Linked DNA regions of Homo sapiens: region 1 is reported to be linked to region 2. The links are microRNA targets in miRTarBase. Many come from high-throughput screens and were not tested one by one. Region 2 holds a microRNA gene; the other region holds the end of a gene's coding sequence.
What was found. Region 2 holds the annotated microRNA hsa-miR-130a-3p (CAGUGCAAUGUUAAAAGGGCAU, at 1,681-1,702, shown strand). A microRNA usually pairs through its seed, bases 2 to 8, with sites in the 3' UTR of a target mRNA and lowers its output. Matches are read on the target gene's strand: a 7mer-m8 pairs with bases 2 to 8, a 7mer-A1 pairs with bases 2 to 7 and ends in A, and an 8mer does both.

Region 1: the mRNA of KCNB1 is a reported target of hsa-miR-130a-3p. Seed matches in the 3' UTR shown: 7mer-m8 at 1,489-1,495.

What each region holds. Positions count from the first base shown.
Region 1 is chr20:49,370,398-49,373,525 of GRCh38, forward strand. It overlaps KCNB1 (potassium voltage-gated channel subfamily B member 1), which reads right to left. Exons shown (of 2, transcript NM_004975.4): 2 at 1-3,128. The coding sequence ends at 2,586. All of the region lies in intron 2 of LOC105372649 (a long non-coding RNA gene), which reads left to right. Among named protein-coding and RNA genes, the nearest start is that of SNORD12, 91 kb to the left of the region's middle.
Region 2 is chr11:57,639,572-57,642,699 of GRCh38, forward strand. MIR130A (microRNA 130a) reads left to right here and starts at 1,627; the gene lies at 1,627-1,715. All of the region lies in intron 1 of MIR130AHG (MIR130A host gene), which reads left to right. RefSeq lists an enhancer at 1-424.

The DNA.
Region 1 (3,128 bases), not on the chromosome of region 2:
AAGGGGTGGTAAGTTCCTTCTCAATATATATGGCTATATTGAAACATGTTCACTTTCCTGATATGTAAAATAGACTATATTATTATTATTATTATTTTTTACAGATAGCATCAGCTCTAAAAATATCTGAATTGGAAATCACAACTATTTACTTTTATCAAAAAGCATTTGTTTTTTTCCCTGAATTTTCACATTTGTGCTGATGGTGGACATTAATGGTGATGAAAACAAAGAAGAGACATGTGAGATGGTCGGCGGAGAACTGTCCCACAGTCATTCCTCAAGAGGCCCCCAGCTCAGACTGCGTGTTCAGCAAAGTGTTTTGGGAGTGCTGCTTCCTCTGCCTGGCACGGGATGACCTCACACTCTCCCTGCCCCTAAGTCCCTTTGCAGTTGCTGCGCGAATACTCTGAAGATACCTAGGAAGAGTGACGTTCTCGTTTTCTCTGTTAATGCGGCAAAGAACAGGACTGCACCCTCTTGGGGGGATCTACAGTCTCTGGAGATGCTGAGAAGTGTTATGAATTGGGTTTGTATACAGCAGAGAAGACATATTTTTAAGGGTGGTGGAATGATCCCATCTCATCATATGTGTGGCAGGTGGCTCAACCTTATGCCTTATGTATGAAGAGCAGGCAGAACAGCTCCATGATATTTGTGTACTGAGAGGTGGATCATGCCATTGTACTAACAGGCAGACCAGCAACAGATGATATTGAGACTTAAGACTAGGTGAACCAATACCATATCTTTCTTCCACTGGGAAGACATATGCCTGTTACTGTATTGAGGATAGACAGAACTACACTATTGTACTTGGGACATCATCCATCAACATTACATTAAGAGAACAACATTGTTCCATTGTACTACAGACAGGCAGACCAATAACATGTCATCTTTACTGACAGGTGAGCCAACACTATAGCATTGTATTCATCAGTGGTTCAACCTAATGCCACTGTACTGAGGAATGGCCAACAACACCATGCTGTTGGACTAAAAGCAGGCAGGACAATGCCAGGTCATCAAACGAGGACAGGAAAACCAACACCAAGAAATACACCAGAACCACTCAGGATGCACACAAATACTTATTGCTTTTGTCTGTACTGGCTGCATCGATGGCTGCAGGAAGGAGAGTTGAGCTTTTAGTACAGACAGTGACACTGAAAAACCAATAGCTGGTTGACAAGAAAGAGAACAGAGTAAAACACCCAATGTCCAACTGTCACTGTGTCCTTTTGAGATGTGCATGTCTCCTGTATACTTGACTTCATGAGAGGCCCCACCCAAGGGGCAAGAACCCCTCCTGACCCATGAGGGTTAAGGGAAGGTTTCAGAGGGGCAGGGAAGGAGCCCACAGACTTTGATATGGCAGACAGTAATACCAGCACAATATTACCCATGCTGGCCAGAAATGGGCAGGTAGCAACAATCCAACTACAGTCCCAACAATTGGGCTATGGGAAATAGTGCTTATTTTAAAGTGCAAGATGTTGACACTGTCCCTGGCAGAACCTATTTTTGAAAAACATAAAGTGCTTTTTATTTTAACTTTTTTTTTTTTAACTTGAAAACCACAGAAAACAAAACAGAATTTCTATTATAGTAGGTACTTTCCTTGCTGCAGCAGGAATTATTCAGTCTGAACTGGGCATTTCAATGCGTGGTATTTTTTTCCTTTCATTTTTGCAAGTAAAAAAATCATATTTTTATGCTGTTCTTCAGTAACACACAGTCTCTTTGAATAAACTATTTCTTTTGCATATTTGACACTTGCATATCTTTTGAGTCTACACTAGTGATGTAAAGAAAGCGTGTTCCTCCTCCAACCCTAAAACAATGCTCTGAGTTCATGCTGTTGGCTGGGTGCCCACCTTCTGAACCCTTCCCAGATTGCCAGGGGGCAATTAGAATTGAGTACAAGTGGTGCAACTCACCCTGATGGTATCTCAAAATAAAATCTCAGGTACTATGAAATACCGAAGTCAATGAAGACATTTGAGTAAGGGTTTTGCGCTGGGATCGTGGCTTATGGCGCAGAGACTTCCCCATGACCAATCATTCCCTGTAGCTGTCTAACAGTGGAATCCATCCAGGAGGTGATGGACAGGTGTTCCTAGGGGTGGCTGGGCAACATTCAATACCAAATTGGTCAACCCACTCTTTCAACACCAGCCGCTTGTTCCAGCATCCTTCTCTAGCTGAAGCCAGGAGGACTGTCAATGTTGCCCTCCGAGGCTGAGATGGAAAGCCACGAGAGAATGGGGAGTATGTGGCCTCGGTCCTGTCTAAAGTGGTGGTAGTGGTGGCTGTGAGTTCCACTCATGTCATCTCCCAAAGAGGGCTATAGAGTTGTTACAAGGAGGTGCTGTGCCCTATGGCTTGGCCAACTTCATGCTGATGGACCTGTCATGGCTCTCAAGGTCTTAGGGAGCCTTCTCTGGAGTCTCTCTTCTCTCTGAGGGCTTTACAGGGCCTTTCTGTTCCAGAGTTCATGCAGAAAAGCTCTGTGGCAGGTAAGCTGAACAGCTCTCCTCTTTGGACCTCACCCAAAAGTCTCTCCTCCAAGGCAGGGCAGTTCAGATGCTCTGATCTCGTGTGCTTCCATGGGCTCCTCCCCCTGGCAACACACGGACGTCAGGGGAGATGTGGTTCTCAAGTTTGCACTTTTCCTGACCACTGGGGCCTTTTCCAGTCAATGCTTCTGTGGAGTAAATACAGTTCTGCCTTAAGAACTTAGGGGAGGTGGGTAAAGGGGAGCTTTCAAAGTGGTTTTTCTCCGATCTTGTCCCCGTGCTGAACTTCGGACTGGTGCTCCCAGGGAGGCTTTTGGGGGGGCTGGAGTCCACACTGTAGAGCAGCTGTCCCTCATCATCTGTGTCTGCGTCAATGTACTGGTGGACACCCGCCTCAAAGTTGAACGCTATTGCTGTGTGTTTCTCAGGAGACCGGGGGGGTGTCTTAGCACTTGCTGTGGTGTAGATGGAGGACTCTGGGCTCAGCACAGCCTTGTCCAAAAGCGTGGCACACTCCAGTCCAGCGACAGCAGCCGCAGCACTCCCCCGGTTCCTGAGAGGGTCATGGTACATCCCTAGAACGGGGAGGAGTGGACTGGGGTCACC
Region 2 (3,128 bases):
TGAGGAGGGGGAGAGGAGAGAACTTGAGCCGGGGCCTCCCCTCCCCCATTTCCTCCTCGGTCTCTACACTCGCTTCTGGAAGGAGCTGGGGGCTGGCTCCTGGGCCCAAGGTGGGGGAGGGGTCCTGCTGGCTGGTGAGTCGCTGGGCCTGCTCCTCAGGAATGAGTTGGGTGTGTGAGAGCTGAGGGGCTCTTGGCCCTTTCTCCCTGCACTCCCTAAGGAGAGACCTGGAAACTTCTTGGGGAAGAATCTTCCCCTGGCCTCCCTGAAGCTTGCTGTGCAGCCTTATCTTTGCCCCTCTGCCCCCTGTTGGTGTGATCCAGTTCCCAGCTGGGCCTGGTTTGCCCAACCCCAGAGCAGAGAGGTCACTGACCCTCGAGGGGTCTTGGTTTCCGCCCATTAAAACTGTAGGGCAGGGCCCCATGTTTGCAGATTACGGGAACAAACTCTGCCGGGGAGAGCGGGAGGGAACGTCTCCTGCTTCCTGAGGGGGTGGGACGAGGCTAGAGGGAAGCCCAGAGGAAGAGCTCCCAACTGGAATTCTGTCCTCTATTCCTTACGGTGGCTGTGGATTAGGGAAGAAGGCATCTCCCCTTCGTTGATCGGGGCACTGGAGGAATCACCCTCCAGCCTCTGTTTCTCTGGGCTGCCCAAAGTTCACTGGGTCAGAACTGGAGCTGGGCTCCGGGGCTGTGGCCCTAGCTGGAATGTGCCACAATAGAGCCTGCCTGGGTCTGAGCCTCCAGATATCCAGGTGTCCTTCCAGGGCAGCTTTCTGGCTTTGGGTGTTAATCTTCCGGGGACTGTTTGTCCTGTATTTAAGCCCCCTTAGGGTTGGATAGGATGGGGAAGTGCTAGGATGAGCTTGAAGACTCCCCAACCAAGGGTCCCTGGATAAGACAGGAAATAACTCAGATGTGAATCCCACTGCCAGTGAAAGCCTATCCCTAACTCTCAGTAACTGTGAGCGAATCACCCTCACCATTTTAATGCTGAATCTGCAAAGTGCTTTCAGGACCTCCAAAAGGAGATGCAGGGGTGGGGCTTCACCAGCAGCTTTCACCTCCCCGCCTGGAAGCTTCTCTCTACTGCGTGGGGAGCTGTGACTACAGGCTCCCACCTCTCTGGTCCTGGAAGGTCATCTGAGAGTGTTGCCTTGAGGCCTAGAGCTCTGCTTTATCTAAATTTAAAAGGAGATGGAAACTTAGAGAAGAGTAGAGGGTTCTGTAGTCTTGGGCAGCAAGCTCCTCTCTAGAAGGTAAGCTAGCGGAAATGCAAATCCAGATGAACACAGCCTCATACGAGTGACCTCCAGACTTTGGGGATTGCTAATAGCCGTTTTCTTTGAGGACTGAGCATCAAGCCCGAAGTATCCCTGCAGCTGCTTTAGTGGGTCCTGTCCTCCCATGCCAAAACCTCCAAGAAAAAGGTGGTCTCTGTGCTGGGGGTCAGGGGGTTGGTGAAGAAGGCGGCAAAAGGAAGAGTGGTGAAAAAATAGAATGAACACTAAGAATGGAATAAAAGGGAAAAAAGCTGTATTGAAGCAAAGAAGGGGCAGAGGGAGCCCGTGAGCTGAGTGGGCCAGGGACTGGGAGAAGGAGTGAGGAGGCAGGGCCGGCATGCCTCTGCTGCTGGCCAGAGCTCTTTTCACATTGTGCTACTGTCTGCACCTGTCACTAGCAGTGCAATGTTAAAAGGGCATTGGCCGTGTAGTGCTACCCAGCGCTGGCTGCCTCCTCAGCATTGCAATTCCTCTCCCATCTGGGCACCAGTCAGCTACCCTGGTGGGAATCTGGGTAGCCTCACTTGTTAGTTATACTAATAGCTCTCATTTATGGAACTACTTCTGTATGCAGTGCTTGTGATAGACACTGCCTCCGTTACTGTGAAACCTAATAACTTCTGGGAGGTAACAGCCCCATTTTATGGATGAAAAACTGAGGGTCAGAAAGGTTTAAACAGTTTGGCTAAGATTGTGTAGCTCTTAGGTTGCAAAGCCTAGATACAACCCTGTGTTAAGTCTTGACAGCTCACTCATCTTTTTGTAGACCCATCTGGAGAGATCTGAATAGGTTCTTCAAACTGGGAGATTTCCTGAGCTGAGGGGTGGAAGGTTTTGATGCCATCTGCTGGTTGTATGAGGATATCTTCCAAAGCCTCAAACCTTTAAGGACCAGAAGTGGTGGCAACTCCTTAGGCTAAGAAGGATAAGCATTCCCAGACTCAGCCCGGAATGGAGAGTGAGTGGAAAAAGATTAGGAGAATCACTATTAGGTACAGAGTAGGCCTCCTTGAGAAAAAAAGGAATGCACCAGAAAGGAAAGGGGGTTAACTCGAGAGGATTGCTCCCCAAAGAAAAGGACCTGTGTGCTGCTGGCATCCCATACCTACAGCTCCTTCCCTGGCTCATGAGGCATGGAAAGACCTCACTCCTTCCCTGAATCCACTTACCTTTCTCAGCACCACTCCCTCTTGGTCACGGGGTGTTTGATGGTAATGCTGCTTGAGGGCACACCTGTCTGGGCATCCAAGATTTGGACAGCGTTGCCCATGACTTAATCTTAAAGATTAATAGGATCCCTTGAATCAACCCACAGAATGATTCTCCCAGGACCAATTACAAGGAAATTGAGGCCGGGTGCGGTGGCTCACGCCTGTAATCCCAACACTTTGGGAGGCCGAGGCGGGCGGATCACCTGAGGTCAGGGGTTCAAGACCAGCCTGGCCAACATGGTGAAACCTCGTCTCTACTAAAAATACAAAAATTAGCCAGGCGTGGTAATGCACGCCTGTAGTCTCAGCTACTTGGGTGGCTGAGGCAGGAGACTCTTGAATGAATCTTGGAGGCAGAAGTTGAAGTGAGCCGAGATTGCGCCACTGCACTCCAGCCTGGGCAACAGAGCGAGACTCCATCTCAAAAAAAAAAAAAAAGAAAGAAAAATTTGAGAGCAATGACTCAGCCATTTACTTCTCTGTCTCCCACAGTGCCTAGTAGGCTTAATTAAAACTTGTTAAAATAAATTGAATGAGAGGAATATTTGGGGAGCTTCTTTAAGAAGGCAGCTAGTATTCCTGGTCTTTTGGCTAAGATCAAGTGAAGAAGGCAGCTAGTTTGTGCCTGGTTTTCA